Linked DNA regions of Homo sapiens: region 2 is linked to region 1. A link means that fine-mapping ties the variant in region 1 to the expression of a gene that starts in the linked region. Tissue or cell type: whole blood. Region 1 holds a variant in brackets; the other region holds the start of a gene. Each region is shown on its reference strand, or each on the opposite one.

The links. PIP is the estimated chance that this variant, and not a neighbour inherited with it, causes the effect.
Region 2: SPAG8 starts here. The variant in region 1 is fine-mapped to the expression of SPAG8 in whole blood (TOPMed, PIP above 0.99).

Annotation. Positions count from the first base shown.
Region 1 is chr1:212,591,715-212,602,994 of GRCh38, forward strand. It overlaps a transcript of ATF3 not described here. Among named protein-coding and RNA genes, the nearest start is that of ATF3, 11 kb to the right of the region's middle. RefSeq lists enhancers at 4,169-5,368, 4,530-5,009, 4,633-4,927. The variant C/T (reference allele first, on the strand shown) is at 6,528.
Region 2 is chr9:35,808,519-35,816,959 of GRCh38, forward strand. It overlaps SPAG8 (sperm associated antigen 8), which reads right to left and starts at 3,744. Exons shown (of 7, transcript NM_001039592.2): 1 at 3,586-3,744; 2 at 2,664-3,483; 3 at 2,365-2,539; 4 at 2,119-2,164; 5 at 1,921-2,035; 6 at 1,729-1,791; 7 at 1,277-1,614. The coding sequence starts at 3,629. The coding sequence ends at 1,420. It overlaps NPR2 (natriuretic peptide receptor 2), which reads left to right. Exons shown (of 22, transcript NM_003995.4): 19 at 1-165; 20 at 237-335; 21 at 638-729; 22 at 862-1,213. The coding sequence ends at 927. It overlaps HINT2 (histidine triad nucleotide binding protein 2), which reads right to left and starts at 6,524. Exons shown (of 5, transcript NM_032593.3): 1 at 6,381-6,524; 2 at 5,126-5,266; 3 at 4,927-5,031; 4 at 4,748-4,820; 5 at 4,442-4,627. The coding sequence starts at 6,461. The coding sequence ends at 4,536. It overlaps FAM221B (family with sequence similarity 221 member B), which reads right to left. Exons shown (of 7, transcript NM_001012446.4): 7 at 7,873-8,441. RefSeq lists enhancers at 3,262-3,818, 3,513-3,562, 6,717-6,896 and silencers at 6,337-6,656, 6,987-7,166.

The DNA.
Region 1 (11,280 bases):
AATCCAGCTTTAACGATTATCAATACTTTGCCAATCTTATCTCATCTCCCCTTCCGCACACTTTTCTTTTATGGGGTGGTAGGGTAGGATGGGCATTTTTTAAATTTTTATTTATTTATTTATTTTTTGAGAAAGGGTTTCATTCTGCTGCCCAGGGTGGAGTGCAATGGAGCGATCTCGGATCACTGCAACCTCCGCCGGGTGGGAGTATTTTAAAGCAAATCATAGGCATCGCAGAGTATGTTTCTAACAGATAAGGACTTCTTTTAAAATTGCGGTACAAAGTACATAACATAAAATGTTCTATTTTAACCATTTGCAAGTGTACAATTCAGTGGCATTAAGTACCTTCACACTGTGTGCAACCATCACCACCATCTGTCTCCAGAACATTTGCATCATAAACTGAAACTCTGTACCCATTAAACAATAACTCCTCATTTCTCCCTCAACCTAGCCCCTAGTAACCACTATTCTACTTTCTGTCTCTGAATTTGACCATTCCAGACACTTCATCTAAGTGAAATCATACAGCATTTTTAAAAATCTGGTTTATTTCACTCATGTTTTCAACGTTCATCTAAGTATTTTATTCCTTTTAAAGACTGATAAGGGCTTTTAAGATAATAATCACAACATATCTAAAAAATTTAATAATAATTTTCTAATATCATCGAATTAGCTAATCTATGTTCACGTTTCCAAAAGTATGTCTTTAAATGTCATTTTACAGTTAGACAGAATCAGGATCCTAACAAGGTCCACACATTATATTTGGTTGATATGTCTCTTAAGTCTATTTTAACCTACCATATTCTTTCTCCTTATTTTTCATGCTATTTATTTGTTGAAGAAATGAGTTAATTTGTCCTGTAGAATTTCCCTCATTCTGGATTTGGCTGATTACATCCTCAGCATTGTTTAACCATTTCCTCTATCCTCTGAATTTCACAAAAACAAATGGTCAGATCTAGGGGCCGGATTGCATTCAGGTTCAACTACTTTGGTGGGCTGTGTGCTTTCTATTACATCACAGCAAGAGGCCCTTGTATCTGATGGTCTCACTTCTTGAGATAGTAAAACAGATCTGTGGGTTTGGGTGCTGCCAGCCCGATACATCCATTGATAACATGGCATTTAAAGATAAGTGTTCTTGGTAAGAGTGGCAATTCCTCAGGGTTCTAGAACTAGAAATACCATTTGACCCAGCCATCCCATTACTGGGTATATACCCAAAGGAATATAAATCATGCTGCTATAAAGACACATGCACATGTATGTTTATTGTGGCACTATTCACAATAGCAAAGACTTGGAACCAACCCAAATGTCCAACAGTGATAGACTGGATTAAGAAAATGTGGCCCATATACACCATGGAATACTATGCAGCCATAAAAAAATGAAGAGTTCATGTCCTTTGTAGGGACATGGATGAAACTGCAAACCATCATTCTCAGCAAACTATCACAAGGATGAAAAACCAAACACCGCATGTTCTCACTCATAGGTGGGAATTGAACAGTGAGAACACATGGACACAGGAAGGGGAACATCACACACCGGAGACTGTTGTGGGGTGGGGGGAGGGGGTAGGGATAGCATTAGGAGATATACCTAATGCTAAATGACGAGTTAATGGGTGCAGCACATCAACATGGTACATGTATACATATGTAGCAAAACTGCACATTGTGCACATGTACCCTAAAACTTAAAGTATAAAAAAAAAAAGTGTTCTTGGGTGTGGTGGCTCATACCTGTAACCATAGCACTTTGAGAGGCTGAAGTGGGAGGGTGGCTTGAGCCCAGGCATTCAAGACCAGCCTGGGCACCAAAGTGAGATCATCTGTACTAAAAAAAAGAAAATTAAAAAATTAGCCAGGCATGGTGGCATGTGCCTGTAGTCCCAGCTATTTGGGAGGCTGAGGCTAGAGGATCACTTGAGCCCAGGGGATCAAGGCTGCAGTGAGCTATGATTGCCCTAATGCACTCCAGCCTGGATGATAGAGAGAGACCCTGTCTCTTTAAAAAAAAAAAAAAAAAAAAAAAAAGTGTTCTTAAGACTTTGTAAATGATTGTAAGCATACCTATGTGTCTGTGTCTCTATTTATATCAGTCACCATTCTTAGCCCTAGGGCTGTCTTTATTTTTCTGTAGATCTTTAAAACTCCCCAAAGTCCCTGTTCAATCTGTGATGTTGAGTAGCCACTCCTGGAATTCTTGAGCTCTCAGATTTCATGTAAGATAGCACCCTATTTCCAATTAGTCCTTGAGTTGCCTGCACATGGGTGCTCACTCAGAGTCACACACATCCACCTGGAAGGAATCATCACCCACCTGCCTTGGTAGCCTGTTCCAATGTCTAAGCACTCCCAGAGCATAAGTCTTCCCTCTGTCTGGTCTAGCCCTCCCTGTGAAGTTAAATTCTGTTTCCTCCAGTTCGGGGCTCGGTGGAGCTGACGAGCAGCTGGCCAGCAGCCCCTGCAGATGAGGCCTGGGGAAATGATGCATGAGGCTAAGACACATTCCAGGTAGTCTACATGCTTCATGAATTTAATGGAAGACTGGCAAGGACTAGAATATGTTTTATTGCAACTTTCTAGCTGGGATTCATTATTTTTCTTTTAAAATTAAATACAAATAACTTATTTCTAAAAAGTAAATATTCAGAGACTATGAATGAAACAAACAAACAAAAAAGAAAACAAAAAACCTAACAATTTTCCAGAGTTGGCATTGTGCTTATTTTGTGCCTTTATAGATGAACAGAGTCCTACTGGTGTCAGATTTAAAAAGTCACTCTACCTCTTAAACATTTTGCCTTATTAGGGTGGAAGGGTCAAAGAGCAAGGAGGGAGAAGACAGAGCAGAGACACAGGGCAGAAGAGTCTCAGATGAGGGTGGCAGGGGTACAAGAGAGCCTGGGTCTATAGACAGAAACAGAGCATGTTGCTGAAACTGCCCAGACTCTTTATTTCAATCTCCAGTCTGTAAAATGGAGATGAAGCGCCCCGCCTGATCCCTTTTTAGGGTTGTGGGAGATGCAGAGGAGCTAATGGGTGTGAATGTGCTTTGTGGGCTGAAGCTACTGGGCCCCTTACAGGCCTACAGGTCAGGGGAAAGAAGAGAGTGTTGCCAGCACCTGTGAGCAGAATTAACCCATTGGCTGATTGCCTGGCCACCTGGACTTAGCATGTATTGAACTGAATACATGTGCAGGGGCTCACAGCCATTCCGATTCTAAAGACTGGTTAAGTTTCACAACAAAAACTGAGGATAATTGCAGGGTTGTCAATTATTGTTTTGCCATCTACTATTACAGTTATATTTATTTAAAAAGTAAAAGGATATTTTAATAATATCTCAACCACTGAGGATGGTAAGATGAGCAAAATAGGATACCCACTCCCAAGGAGTTCATAAAACTGTAGGGAAACACATGTATAAAAATATGTATATAAAGACCAAATAGATGTGTAGCCCCTAGGACTCTTTGGCTCGTTAGAAAAAACAGTACAAAATGGCTTAACAAAAAGTGGAGATTTGCCGGTTCATATAGCTGAAAACTCTGCAGAAAGTGTGGCTGCCACCCAGCTTGATATAGAGCCTCTTGGCTCTAACCTTTTTCTCCAGTTGCCCATGGCAACCTCAGCAGCCCCAGGCTACAGCCCCCTGCCTTCAAGTCCAGCTAGTGAGCTGCCTCCAGCAGCCCCAGCCCGGTGCTCCCGCAGCTCAGTGGCTCTACATGGATCCTGAGCCCCTTCCTGGACCAACCACAGTGGTCCCTGGCCTGGTTTGCTCTGACTGGTCACCCAATGCACAGGGACCGGAAATGTGCGGGGAGTGGCTTTCTCGGACGAAAACTGGGAAACCATTACTCGAATTGGGATGGATAGATGCTGAATGGCCAAGAAACAAAAATATCCTCTAAGAACTATGGGAACACAGAAAAGGTGCGTCCACGGCTAGCCTCATAAGCCGGATGACCTGTTCAGTCCCACCCTTAACAAGTTTCACATTGGCTTAATGCTCTGCTGTCACTGACTCAACATTCTTAATAATTTCTGAACAAGGGGCTCCACATTTGCGTTTGGTAATAGGCCCCACTAATTACATGGCTAGTCCTAGAGGTGACTAACATTATATTACCTACACAAGGAAGTGACTTTGAAACTGGATTTTGAAAGATATAATGAAACAGCAGTTTTGTAAATGGAAAGGTTTGGGTGGCAGGAGGAGGAGGAAATTCCATCATAGGCAAGAATGTTAGACGTGAGAGGCTTGATGAGAAAATGAAACCACTAGCGCCTCAAGTGGTTGGGGCTTAAAGTGACTGTGGGGTGTGGCCCCAGTGGAGTGGGAACAAAATATTCCTTCGATGAATTAATATTCCTTCAATGAATTAATAAACACAAGTGAAGTGAAATTTAACATGAGAAAAAATAGTTTATATTTTTTAAACCTCCATGATTCCAAATGGCCGTTACAAGATAACTCCTATTTTCCACCTCACTTTTCTACTGCACACTAAGGCTAACTTTCCCCTGTGTAACATAAGTGCCTACTGATCTTTATCACTAGCGTGTTAGCAAGGTTAGCATTCCACTTCTGTGATTTCACCATCCAAATATTTATGAATCAGAGAGATGTTTCTAAGAACATGTTTTCCAATTGTTTACTTTATAACAATAATAGTGTGCTTTAATTACAAAGATGACGTTTTACAACCTAAATAGAACAAGCCTCAGTTGTGTGGGAGTTCATTGCTTTGGTGATAAAAGAGAAACACAGACAGTGACTCAGGTGGAACATTCGTTTCATTTTCACTTTGTGTTTCCTTTGGTTCTACATGTCAGGACATGTAACAGAGCCAAGGCAGAAGAGTGCTGTGGGGGGTGTGAAAGTTAAAGCTAAGGCTCTATATGCCAGAAAGAAAGGACAATGTCCCCTCTCACCCACTGGCTCCCCTTTCAAGGCCAATGCCAAGGGGGAAAAAGAAGGTGGCTTCCCTCTGGCACATGAATGGTGAGCTAGTTAACAGTCAGTGTTTTGTTCCCAAATTCTTTAAAGGAATGCTGAAGAGATAACACTGGTTCTTCTGAATTGAGAATCTCTTTGAATTCCCACTGCTGTCTTATTTCCATTTAAATTAAGCTTAAGAGGAGAAATTAATGTTGGGGTATCTGCTAAGTGCCCAGTGTGGAGCCTCTTTCTGTCTTGTTCATTCTTGGATGTCCAGCTCTTGAACAATGCCAGGCATACAGTAGGCACTCAATACATACACGAGGAATGAGTGTATGAATTTATTCCTCACAGCACTTTTATGTGAGGAAGATGCGGGGGCAATCTTCAGATAAGAAAATAGACATTAAGTGTTGGAAATTGAGAGAAAGAGGTGGTTTGTCCAGCAAGGCATGTCCAACACAGACAGAGACAATATGGGGCCTCCTCGGTGACTCACTTTTATGTGACTAGGTATGTGTCTCTTCTGTAGAAACTTGGTCAATAGGGAATGACGACAAGAAAAAAGGGGCCCTTAGAAAATAATATCACCATCATGATCATCATCTTCATCATCGACTGTAGACACAGCGCTTATAATCACAAAATTGAAGAACTGTAAGGAATTTCAGAATTTATAATAATAGAAGCTCCCATTTACTAATGTGTTGTTATATTCTGGGTACTGAGTTACATCTATTTATCTATCTATCTATCTATCTATCTATCTATCATCTATCTCTCTATCTAGCTAGCTATCCATCCATTCATCTATCTAGCAATCATCTATCTTTTCACCCCCTGCCCCATATCAACCCTGCAAGGTGGGTCGTATTAGCTTTATGTTCAATGTTCCAGGCCAGTAAGTGGCAGAGGTTGAGACTCTTGCTGCCTTCTGGAGCCCTTCCCTTAGCACAGCCTCCTTGACTAACACAGGAGGAATTTGACCCTCAGAGAGGGACCTCAGGTTTCTCAGCTAGTGCAGAACCAGAACTTGAACCTTGGCCCGAGTGTTGTTTCCACTTACCACAGTGTTCTCAGTGTAGATGAGTACACTTTGGATTTCTTTCCGTTTCGCTTATATAAGTCACTATGAGGTTTAGCAGGACAAAAACTGAGCTTATTGAAGATTAATTCATCATTCCATCTCCTACCTTAGAAACAATTTTATTCTTTCCTGGATTCCATCTCAGCCCCTGGCACATGGTAGGCATTCAAGGAGTGCTTGATACATAATTAAGCCAGGATTTGATTTGGATGGAATCTCAGTCTTAGGTACCCCTTAATGGCAGGACTGGAAAAAAGTAGGCAAATACACTCTTCGAAAGACACACAGTAATATTAGTTTTTGCCTTCATGAAAGTTTATACTTTCATCTTTTAAGAATTAACACATCCGCACTATAGAACAATGGGATAATTCAGAAATATATAAGTAGAAGAGAAAAAAAGTTACCCACCCATACTTCCAACAACTAAATACTTTTAATATTTTATGGAAATTTCTTTATTTCCCTTATTCTA[C/T]GTATTTTGTTGTTTATTTATAGCTTTTATTGAGTTATGATTGTTCTGTGTTGATATATATCTTACTTTTTAAAATTTATTTATTTTTAACTTTTATGGGTACATAGTAAGTGTGTATGTTTATGGGGTACATGAGATACTTTGATACAGGCATGCAAGATGGAATAATCACATCTTGGGAAATGGGGTATCCATCCCCTTAAGCATTTATCCTTTGTATCTCAATCCAATTATACTCTTCTAGTTATTTCTAAATGTACAAGCAAATTATTTTGACTACAGTCACCTTGCGGTGCTATCAATAGTAGGTCTTATTCATTCTAACTATTTTTTTGTAACCCATTAACCATCCTCACCTTCCCCCACCCCCATTACCCTTCCCAGCCTCTGGTAACCATCCTTCTACTCTTTGTGTCCATGGGTTCAATTGTTTTATTTGTAGATCCTGCAAATACGTGAGAACATATGATGTTTGTCTTTCTGTGCCTGGCTTATTTCACCTAACATAAAGACCTTCAGTTTCATCCATGTTGTTGCAAATGACAGTATCTCATTCTTTTTTATAACTGAATAGTACTCCACTGTGTATAAGTACCACATTTTCTCTATGCATTCATCTGTTGATGGACACTTAGGTTGCCTCCAAATCTTGGCTACTGTGAACAGAGCTGCAACAAACATGGGAGTGCAGATATCTCCTTGATATACTCATTTCCTTTCTTTTGGGTATATACTCAGCAGTAGGATTGCTGGATCATATGGTAGCTCTACTTTTGGTTTTTTGAGGAGCCTCCAAACTGTTTTCCATAATGGCTGTACTAATTTACATTCTCACCAACAGTGTACGAGGGTTAACTTTTCTGCACATCCTCACCAGCATTTGTTATTGTCTGTCTTTTGGATAAAACCATTTTAACTGGGGTGAGATGATATGTATCTTGCATTTAAAACCCACATTATCTCTACAGCATTCCCTAAGTTGTAATCTCTTTGTGAATATCTTTTAAAATAGTGGCATAGCACTGAAAAAAGACTTGTTTAAATAAGTGTCTAGTTTGTCAGTTCTCAACTATGTCAGGCTGAGGATCATTGGCTTTTCCTGGTTCTTGAGGGACCATTTCTGGTCTTCATTAATCACTTTATCAGAAAGCTAGCTGGAATAAATATTGTTATCCAAAGCCTGAGGGAAAGCATAAATTACAGCTGTGAACCAGTGAGGTAGATTTTCATGGTACTTGGTAATTATCCGTAAATTTCCAATAATCCACACTGACTCCTACATTATGCCTTAGGCCCCAACCTGGCTCTTCTTCCTCCCTCTCTCTCCTCTCTCCTCTGAGTCTTTCCATTACTTTGATATCCCCAACATGCTGATGGCTAGGGGCCATTCCCTTCTTTGACATCCCACTGCTAAGCATTTTGTCCCGAAATGCCCTTATTAGTCTTTTCCCACTTCTACTGCCTACAATACCCAATCAGTTCCTTCCCACCCCAATGCTATGCTCTATAACATCTGAGATAGGGGCATTCCTCCCCTCTCCATCTATCCTAACACCAAGCTTCTGCCAAAATCCAAAGATGTCTGCCTAGAAGTTTCCCAAAATCATCCCCTCCTGTTCTCCTTACCAGCCCTGCCTCAGGTGAGGCAACACTGCTGTACTCCCAAGACTGATCAGATGCCTGCTTAGGGTACCTGTAATGGGGAGGGCCCCCGAAAGTGAGGGAAGCTCAGTTTTAATAAAGCAATCCTGAATTTTGCAATGAAAAGATCCAGGGGAAAAAGGCTATTTTAATTTCAGTACACATAAGAGCATTGTGTTTTGTGAATAATTTTTATTTTGAGTGAACAACATACGAGAGTGGGGATACCACCATCTTCACAGTTCATCTGGCCTCCGATGGCCTCACCTGACCAGTGTTGCAGCCTCCTGATGGCCCTCCATGGGCATCTTCCTCTCCCATCCAGCCCACCCTCAGCCCTCTACCAGCAGTCTTCCTGAAAAACATCTGTTTGTGTCCATCTGCCACTGACAGACCCCCTCCCTTTGTCCCTGGGGACAGAGTCCAAACTGATTATTACATCTTCAAAGGCTATCACAGTCTGTTCTTCCCAGACTTGCTTCCCTAACGTCTCCTCCCTTCCACAAATACTCCTGCTCAGCAATTGCCTCACTGTTCTCCAAACACTGTGCATGTTCTCTCCATTCCGTATTTTCATCCACTGAATGCGTATTCACTGTGGGTCTGGCATGTGCCTGGAACTGTGCAAAGAGCTGGAAATAAGGACAGAGATGAGCAGGGCACAGCCCCTTCCTGGCACTCACAGCCTCTTCATATGACTTTCTCTATGCCTGGAATGCCTGTCCACTTCCCTTGCCTAGAAAACGGTCGGCTCAACATCCAGCTCGACAGTCACCTCAGCCATCAGCTCTTGCCAGCTTTCCTGGGCAGAGCCGTCCTGCCCCACTTTAGCCCTTGCTGCATCAGGCTGTAACTATTTGTTATCAAGTCTGTCTCCCCATGGGCTGTGAGCACCTGGAAGGCAGATATGCATCACTGTGTACCTGCAGCTTCTGACACGGTATCCAGCATATAGTTGGTGCTCGTTAAAATGTTGGAGGACTAAACATACATACATATATATATAGTATATATATAAAATACCTACTATATTGCTGGACTTCTGCTTCATGTATATTAATTTGCCACCTAAACAAGATTTTTAACTCTTCAGGTCAAGAAATGCTCTTATATTGTCCTTGTAACCCCAAGGTGTCTAAGTAGACTGCTGAGAGCAGTGTCCGGTAATAGGACACAATTTGATGCATTGATTGATAGGCATAAACTCACTGGAGTGACTCACTTTGCCCTCAGCCACTCTAGTTTCAAGTACAAGTTCATCATCTGATGATTCAAGTTCATCGTATTTTGGGAAAAGAATAAAAGTCCAAAAAGCCCTACTCAGTTTACTCAGTCAATAACAGGGCTTATGTTTGTGGTTAAAGCAAATTATGAAATAATTGCAAATTTGGCAGGGGGGAAAGTATCCCTGAGGGCACAGGGATCTGGAATTTATTAAGCATGTATCCTCTGGGACATCAGGAGTAAGAATTTTCTGGTAAGGTCAACTCTAGAAGCATCTGTGCATTCAGCAAGACTTTGGTAAAGCGAGGGTGCTCATTTTCAACAAGGTAGGGAAGGCTAAAGAAAAGTAAACACACATCATGCTCTCTAAGATTTTGAGGACAGTATCGCTTAATGTAAGTTTTGAAATAAGTTAGATTTGTGTTTAAATCAAGTACCTATGAGCAATTTTCTTAACCTTTCTGTGCTTTGGTTTCCTCATCTGTAAAACCGAGATAAAAAACCTACCTCACAGGTTATTATAAGGATGAAATAAGATACTGGGTATTTTTAAAAGTGCTTACTATTGTGCCTGGCATGTAGTATGTGCTCAGTAAATAGTAATTACTAAATAGGACCTGGCCACACATCAAGTTTTTTTAAATTTGTTTTAAAATCAGTCAGTAAGCCAGCCTGAGAGATGGAACTTTCCATGAGGGTCTAGACACTTTGGTGTCTCAGGTTTCCATATGACTTGGTAGCTTCAAGGGTAAGGCGTGAAGAGGGAAAAAAGCAATATTTATTGAATGTCACTTTTGAGGGTGAATTGTTTTTTAATTTTGGGGGGTATATAGTAGGTGTATATATTTATTGGGCATGTGAGATATTTTGATACAGGCATACAATGTATAATAAAGGTGTATTGTTCCTTAATCCCATGATTAAGGAAACAGATATAAATGAGGAAACAGACATTATCCTCATTTTACAGGAGAAACTGAGGTTATAAGACCTTCTTAAAACTAAATAAGCAGTGGCAGAAAGAGGATTTGAACTCAGTTCTATCTGACCACAGGTTCTTTCTGCCATCCCTGGCTTCTACCCTACACCATCCCCTTTTCAGCCCCAAGGATAGTATGCCTTGCCAGCCACTAGCTAAGGTGCCCCTAAAATGTTTTAGGGTGCTCTTCTTACAATCAGCTTTTTTCACCTTGGCCCTATTCTTAGCAAAAGCAGCATCTCCCCAGGTGGAGGGCAAAAAAGGGGTTCACGAGTCTCAATGGCTGCTAAGGTTCCTTTCGGTATGAGAATTTATGATTCTGACACGATGTAGAGCCACATTTTTCTCTGTAAGCTCAGTTTCCTCATCCATCAAAGGAGGGCCCTGAACTGCATCAGAGCATCCCAAGTTTCCCGTGAGCACTTGCCAGGAGGTGGTAGGTATCGTGGTTGCGCACTCAGACTTGGGAGTCAGACTGCCTGGGTTGAGTCCTGCTCTACTGCTCACTAGCTAGGTAACTTCTGGCAAGTTATTTACCCTGTCTGTGCCTCAGTTTCCTCATCTATAAAATGGAGATGTTTACGGTCCATCAAAGGGTGGTTACAATAATTAAAAGCATTAACTGTACGTAAAGGGCTTAGTACATAGCACGGAACACCCAGAATGCTACATAGTAACATTTTACACTTAGAAAGAAGGGAGGGAACTAATCCTCTCAAGGTCCCAGGAATAAAACTTTTGGCAGCCGATGCTAGACCCAGAATGTATTTGATATCTTCTCTCTTTCCTTAGAAATCCTTGCATGACTTACATTCAAATTCCACATATCTATATATGTTTAATACAACACAATATTTTAAGGATTTTTTATTTAAGGCAGACACTCAAGTAAGATCTCCTTTGTTTATC
Region 2 (8,441 bases), not on the chromosome of region 1:
TTGGGGATGCTTACATGGTGGTATCTGGCCTCCCAGGCCGAAATGGTCAACGCCATGCACCAGAAATTGCTCGTATGGCCCTAGCATTACTAGATGCAGTTTCTTCCTTTCGCATCCGCCACCGACCCCATGACCAGCTGAGGCTACGCATAGGGGTCCATACTGGTAAGGCTGACTCTCACTCCAGCCCTAGTCTCCACCTTTCCCAGACTCTCCCAACCTGTTTCTTCTCAAAGGGCCAGTCTGTGCTGGGGTTGTTGGCCTGAAGATGCCCCGTTATTGTCTTTTTGGAGACACAGTGAACACTGCTTCTCGAATGGAGTCTAATGGTCAAGGTAAGACATTAGCCCTCAACCCCACTGTTGGCCTCAATTTATCTTGCCCTTTTCTTCTTTTCATAATCCCTCCAATTTCTTAATCTGAGAGACCACAGTTCCTTAGTGTCGCATCCTCGGGCATATTTTGGTTCTAATAGATATGCATTGGGAGGTTGGGCATATTTTGGTCCTAATAGATATGCATTGGGAGCTTCCCAGGGATGGTTGGTCGGGCACGGTGCTATACAGTATCACCAATTATTTGATTGCCTTTTCTTTGATTCCTCATTCCACCATCCTCCCCATTCCACCCACCCCAGCGCTGAAGATCCATGTCTCCTCTACCACCAAGGATGCCCTAGATGAGCTAGGATGCTTCCAGCTAGAGCTTCGGGGGGATGTGGAAATGAAGGTGATGGCAGGCCATGGGGAGGGGGGCATGGAAAGGGAGGGTGAAAGTGATTATGGGAATCATAGGGAAAGAGAGGGAGACAAAGGGACTAACATCGAAGCATCTGAATCATGTCCACTCTCCCACTTCCAGGGAAAAGGAAAGATGCGAACATACTGGCTCTTAGGAGAGCGGAAAGGACCTCCTGGACTCCTGTAAACCCCCATTCTTTCCAAGTCAGATAGTCTTCTGCTGCTGGTACCTGGGTGGGCAATGGCCACCATGTCTGCACACACCAGAAATGGACATTTTCATATGCAATGGAAAACAGCCACAAAAAAACCTACCTTATATGGAAGTTGTAGCCCTCTGCAGCTCAGCCCTGTACATATACCTGTCCCTCTCTGGCTTGGTCCCCTTCCTCCCTACTTTCTGTAAATATCTGTATCTAAACCAGAATATTTTGGTCAAATATAAAACAATAATAAAAAAAGTTCTGATGTCATAGTGTGGGATAGGGGCAATCCCAAGGAAAGGTTATGGGGTATGCACACAGTGACTCACAGAATCACTAAATTAGCAGTCTTGGGATGAGAGAGAACCCTTTATGTAAAGCCTCTTCAAGTACAGTGAGAATTAACTTCCTCCCGACCTCTCTAGTGCAGACAGAAATAGATTCCATATTCCATACCCCACTTCCCTCCTCACCCCTCAGAAAGGAGTCATTCTCCCCCCTCCACCACCCAGCCTTCCTCCGGGACAGGGAAGGGAAGATATTTCTCCCAATTGGTAGGGGTAATTCTCAGGTTCATAGGGCAAAAGTTTCCCCAGAGACAAGGGTACTGGTGTTGAGAAGCTGCAGTTCTTCCGGAATGGTGTGTCCAATGTCCTGATGTTACTGACACCCTGGAGGAGTGCCAGGATGAGGATGGATCCCACTCTCCCCAAGCCAGAACAAAACAACTCTGCCCTACCTTTCCTGCCCCGCTCTGCCCCCAACACCTAGTCACCCTCACACACCGGCAGCTGTGGTGCCCTCTGTATCCAGAAGGTCTCAGGTTGCTCCTGGCGGTAGTCGTGAGGCTGTGAGGGAGGGTACTGAGTAACTCCTGGCCTTCAGCCCTCTCTCTCAACCTCTGGGCTTGGTACTTGGCCACAGCCTGTCAGAGCCCAGCTGGTGCAAGTGGCGGGGGATGGGGGGTGGGTTCTCACCTTTGTTGGGGCAGGAGTCCCTGCTTGTGCCAGCTCCATTCGGTAGTCATGGTGTGTCACAGACTCAACCTCGAAGAGCTTCCTTGTGGGTTCCTGTTCTGCCTGCACCTCTTTACTATGTAGCCCGAGGGGTGTCAAGGCCATTCTCACCCAATTTTTCTCCTCCCCATCCCTCTTCCCCTTTACCCAATCCCTTACCAGATCTGATGCTGCAGGAGCATCTCCAGCATGGCTTCACGCTTCCCTGTGAGAGAGTTGGGGGGTGGGCAAGGTGGGGTCTGGTTAAGAAGGAGGCCCAGAAGAAACTAACTTGAGAAAAGGAAGAAGAACCTTGGGGTTCCGCCCTTATATCCACTGGAGAATCCACAGCCCCACCAGAAATTCCTTCCTCTTCTTCCCTCTGAGTAATGGGCTCGTTCTGGCCTACCCTCTCACATTTCACACCTCGAAGTGGCCAATAGACGTTTCCTGGTGGCTGGTACGAGTCTTTCTGGGTGGTGCTGGAGGGCATGGGTGACTTTAGTTGCATAGTCAGCAGTCCCCGGTGTCCGTGTCGGAAGAAAAAACTCTCAGAGCCATCCTGCATGCTTGGGACTTGATCCAGGTGGTTGGTGGCTCTCTGTGGATCCCAAGTTGAATGACTATAATATCCCTTCTGGTACCCACCCTCATGTAAACTACTGCCTCCCCTAAGAAACTGAGGGCAGCCTTCAAGAAAAGGGAGCAGGCCAAAACTTTAATACCTCTTCCTCCCAGTTGTAGAGGAGGCACTGGCCCCGCGGCAAAGTTTCATAGCAAACCATAAGCTTCCCTTTAATGTCTGGGGGTTTCCATAGTCCTCGGGCACCCGGTTCTAAGACTTGCAAAAATTCCCAAGGTGGTTGTTTCTGGGGCTCCCAGGGGCAGTGCTGACTCCAGGAGGTATAGTTAGGGACCCGATCTGCCACCAGGTTTCTGAACCCTGGAGGAATACAGGGGCTGAGCTCAGAGTCAGGGCCAGTGTCTGGACCAGGCCCAGAGGCAGGACCAGGATGAGAGCCAGAGCCATGACCAGGACCAGAGCCAGGACCAGAGCCAGGACCAGGACCAGAGCCAGAGCCAGGGACAGAGCCACAGCCAGGACCAGAGCCAGAGCCAGAGCCATGGCCAGCACCTGAGCTGGAACCAAGAACAGGCCCAGAGCTAGAGCCTGGAACAGGGCCAGGATTAGAACTATGGTCAGTTGTAGTGCAAGTGTCCTGAGCAATACAGGAAACATAGACGGGCTCAAAGCCAAGACTCCCATGGGCTATATTGTGGGTAAAGCCGGGTCCCGCACAGGGCTCCCCAAGAAGGCTGGGGTCAGAGGACGGCTCCATGAACTCAGAACAGGGCGCTGGGGTCTTTGTAGATAATGCAGCTGCTTTGGCAGTGGTGAAGGCTGCAGTAGCTGCAGCAGCTGATGCAGCCGCTGCAGCTGCTGCGGTTGCAGCTGCCAGGGCCGACCTGGGACTGTCATCTGAAGAAGGAAACGGTTCCGAAGTGGGCCCCAGTCCTTCGGAGCTGGGCTGTATGTCTAAAGATCTGAAAGAAAGCAAACACGACATGGCTGTCAAAAGCGCAGCAGAGGAAGTCAGCTGACCTTCCTCGTCCCCTTATGCCTGCAGCCAGAGCTGCGGCTCTCACCGCGACCGCGACCGCGATCCCTCCGTAGACTCGTTGGTCTCCATCTTCAGACTCCAGCTACTGGGTTGCCATAGAGACAGCAAACAACTCCTGGAGCCTGCGCAGAAGTACAGCTGGGCGGACTTGCAGGTGGCGGTGGAGGCAAGTCCTCTGCGGGGCGGAAGTCTTCAGCCTAGTGCTGTTAGGGAGGTCCGCTTTCCGGTCCCGGCGGCATTCCGCCTCAGACGGGGTTTTAGGGTTCCGCTGGCTTAAGACCTCGCCCTCCACGTCCAAACAGTCTTTGCGTGCGGTTTTCTAAGATGATGCTTTATGGGGATATGTTGGAAACAGGCACAGGGTTGTGGCATTAGATTACAGCCTACTTGGTGTTTGCTGAGAGGCAAGTAGCTTCCCCTTAGTTTGCTTAGTTCATTCTCAAAAGTGAGTGGGGTCTTTAACAAATGTTAAGGATGAAAATAAACAAACTAGCTTGAGCAAAATGGTGAGACGTAGAATAGTGAAAAGGCAGCCGCTTTTGTTTGGGTGTGATTACTCCTCCTCTAATAAAAGACCCTCATATTGACCACCCTCCTCCTAAGCGCCCTTAGAACCTGGTTTGACCTCTGAAGAAGGGCCAGGATTGGCTTTCAGTTTCTTCCTACTCATTTAGGCTCATTCCTACTGTTACTTTTCTAGAAGCTTGACCTAGGGTGGACCACTTGTCAAGAAGACTTACATATCTGCAGGCAACATTTAACCACAGGTTGGACCTCCTCAGTGTCTTTCACTCAGACCAGTCAAGGGGCATCATAGCCCTGAATCAGTTTTCTTTCCCCTTTGTGGTATAAAATTTTATATTAAAGACAGGAGAGCATAATTAAGGGAGAACAGTTTTATTAGCATCACAGGGTCCATTTTTCCCTTTCCATCCAAGCATCCAGAGTCTGGTGTCCTTTAATCAGTTGGCAGGTTCAACCTGGAGGCCACTGGAGCTGCCGGCCCCCAAGTACATGAATGTGCAGATGATACACAGATTGTGCACCCAGCTTCCCATCGTTGATCACTGAAATTGAGCTTGGGGTTAGGGAGTCAGGATCATGGCAGAGGTCGAAGAATGAAGATCATATTGAGAAGTAGGAATGAGAATTCATAGGTGAGGGACCAAGGGCCAAAAGTCACTCACCAAGTCGGTATCCATCTCCCAGGCCCTCAGCCTTTGCTGTCTGCTTGGCCACAAGGAGTAGGTGTCCTAGAAGCTATAGAGAGAGCGGAGGGACATAGGTGGCTTCATTCATAGGGAGCAAGACCTCTAGCTGGGTCCAGGGGCTCCTCCCAGCCAAACCCTGGCCCTGTTCTTCCCACCTGCTGGTCTTCTTCTTCAGCCTGGCTAATCCGAGGAATGGGCTTCTTAGGAATGACCAGGAAGTGCACAGGAGCCTGAGGGGCCACATCACGGAACACAAGACACTGGGGGAAGTGACAGGCCAGAGGCCACGTTACTTCAACAGGTTGGATGGTATCTACAACATTCCTAAGGGGATAGGTCCTAAGAGCACCCCACCTGCTGGTCCTCATAGAGAATGTCAGCTGGGAGGCTCTTGTCCAGGATCCGGGAGAAGATGGTTGGGGCTGCTCCCCCAGGAGTTGCCTGCTGGGCCTTGGCCACTTCATTCCCATCAGTCACACCTGCAGCTCCTCGGACCTGAAGGTGGATCGACCATATTCAAAGGAGGGAGCTGGCAGAAGCTGGGCTCTGATAGTTGTTAATTTCGTCCTTCTAATAACCTATTCATCGTTCCCACCCAGGAGGAAAGTTCCTGAATTTCAGAGCACCAGCAGCAAAGGGTAGGGCCAGAAGGTGCTGGACCTGGTTAGATAACAGGCGGTATTATTATCAGGATTCAGCAGTGCAATTGATTCCTGCTCATGTGTCCACGAAATATAGCACTGTTTAGGGAAAGGATCTAGAATGAGAGACTGGGGATTTTGGTCTCAGTTCCTACCTTACCATACCACTGAATTACCTCAGATAAATTCCTTCTCTCAGCTTCTAATATAAAATAAAGGGATGGTTTCCATAATCTCTTGCGATGGCTTGAATCTCTTTCCACTCTCACCTTGTTAGTACATTTCCACTTATTTCCGTTACTTGTTTTCTGATCTTTAAGCCTTGTCGCCTGTTTTATTTAAGTTTTAATGCAATCGCCCTGTTTGACACTAGTTGACCCCTCATCTGGGTGTCACATGTGACTCTGTGAATTTTAACTCTTGTCCCTTGAATGAGTGGAGGTAAGAGTTCAGCTAAGTGACCTCTGCTCCCCTAGCCCCAGGGAACTTCGGGTAAGGGATTCAGAGAAGGCTGATGTCATTGCATCACGTTGGGGGAGAACGGGACGGAATGAATTCTCTGACCTCCGAGCCGCTTCTGGCAAGTGCAGAAGAGAGGTTAACACTAGTGCTCATTAGGAGGCCAGAAGCCTGAGGAGGGCAGAGCACTGGCTCCAAGAAGAGAAAGCTCATTTCCTGCAGGGGGCATCGGGCCAGCTGGGCTGCAGGCAGTGGAAAGAAGGCGGCAGCCGCTGCACTGACCCTGTCCCGACCTCGGCGCCCCGGCCTGCGCAGGGCGGGAATCAGCACCAGCTCGTTCTCCGGAGCCACCAGTTCGACCTCACCACACAGCCCCGGAGCTTGTGCCTCGGAGGGGCAGAGGCCACAGGCAGGAGCTCTGCGCGGCTCTGCGCGCCTTCGGGACCCCCTGGCCCCGGATGGCTTCGGAGCCCGCAGGACCCCCTACTCGCTCCCGCGCCACTTCTCACCTGCCCCCCGCGCACCCCCGTGGCCGCCACGGCTCTGCGCGCCGCGCGCAACCCAGCAGCCAGCACCACGGCTGCCGCCATCTTCCCTGAGCCGCGGGAACCTCTCACCCGGGTCAGCACTCGGCTCCGCGGCCGGCCGTGGGTGGGGACTCCGGGCGCGGGGAAGCGGGGTAGTGGCGGCCGGGCGAGCCCTGCTACCCCATTGGAGCGCGCCTCTGAGCACGATTCACCCCATTGCCTCTGCAGCCACTTTGGAGGCGGGCTCTTTTCATCTCATTGGCTGCTTCTACCAACGCGAGGACAATTTTCCATTCCATTGGTTTCGTCTTCTAGTCCGTGTGAACGTTCTTTTCCCATTGGATCCCCTTACTAGTTTCTCTGTGAGAGAAACTTCCACTCCATTGGAAGGATTAATGGAGCCTGGAGGTGGGATTTTCTCCTAGTTGAATCTGATACACAACTCTGGCTTCTAGGTTGCGGCTCCCGAGTGGGTGGTTCTTTTCGTTCTTGGTTCGTCCTCTTCAGGTCTGGTTCCTATTGGTGCGCGGGGAGAAGGGGGCGGGGCTCCGCCACCTGCTGCAGAAAGGGCTGTTTTAGACCCTCTCACCGCTTTGGCCAGGAGGAGGGCGGGGCTCTGAGGGCATCCGGCGCTTATTGGCTCCAAGAACCACCCGGGGTGGGGCTAAAGGTGAACGGGGATGAGGTGTGTTTTTTTGTGTTTGTTTGTTTGTTTTAACTGGCGGGGCTGATGCGCAGCATTTTCTCCACAAGGGCAGTTTCAGTCCCTTGAGCATTTTGGAGATTTTAATGTACTTATCTAAGGGAAATTCTTCCTTAATTCTATGTTCTTGTTAACGCATTCACTCCATAGATTAAAAAGTCTGTGGTTTTTGCATTTTTTTTTTTTGAGCAGGAGGAGATAAGAGTGTCCTATATTTGCCGCACAAGAATTATAATAAGCAAAGGAGTATGTATTCATTGTTCTTTTCTAATCGGAAAAGGTGTGTGATACAGTTAGCTCGGTGCCTGGTGTTTTCTTTTTTTTTCTTTTTTTCTTTTTTCTTTTTTTTTTTTTTTGAGACGGAGTCTCGCTCTGTCGCCCAGGCTGGAGTGCAGTGGCGCGATCTCGGCTCACTGCAAGCTCCGCCTCCCGAGTTCACGCCATTCTCCTGCCTCAGCCTCCCGAGTAGCTGGGACTACAGGCACCCGCCACCACGCCCGGCTAATTTTTTGTATTTTTATTAGAGACGGGGTTTCACCGTGTTAGCCAGGATGGTCTCGATCTCCTGACCTCGTGATCCTCCTGCCTCGGCCTCCCAAGGTGCTGGGATTACAGGTATGAGGCACCAATAAGTCAGGTTTGCACTGCTGGAATATATATTTTTGACATAAGAAACGTGGGGTCACAAAATACTAATATTCTCAGACGCTAGGTAAGTTTTAGTCTGATATCACATAGGACAAGTTACCACTGTTTCTTTGGTTTTTCTTTTTTTCTTTTTTTTTTTTTTAAACACATGACCTGATACATATAGGTGGTCAGTAATTGTTGAATGAATAACATTTGGTGTTTCCTGTCTTTTTTTCATAATATGTAATATGTATTGCATATGATACTAACCCATGTGTAATCAATTTTTCATATTTTTACAGTCTACGTAAATATAGTTTGTATTGGCTGCTTATTATTTCCTTCAATGAGTTTATCATAGTAATCCTAACTCTATTGTTGACTATTAGTTGAATTAGTTTTAGGTGAATGGTTATCATGGGGCATATAACCACTGTTGGGGAACTTTGCTTCTAGAGATATAACAATCTCTTTTGTATAGCTATATTATTGTTAGAAAATCCTTTCTCCTCTAAAGGGCAGACATTTGATTCTGTGATTTTCCCCAGGGATCCTAGCAGTCCAGATTGCATTCCTTCCCTTGGAGGAACAGATGGCCCCCCTAATTGTGAGGAAATGTAGAATGGCCTCTTCTCTGGGCCCCAGAGGCTGCAGTTCTCTGTGGTGCCTCTGGGACACTGGGAGACCCTAGAGTTGCCCTGGAGAAGGGC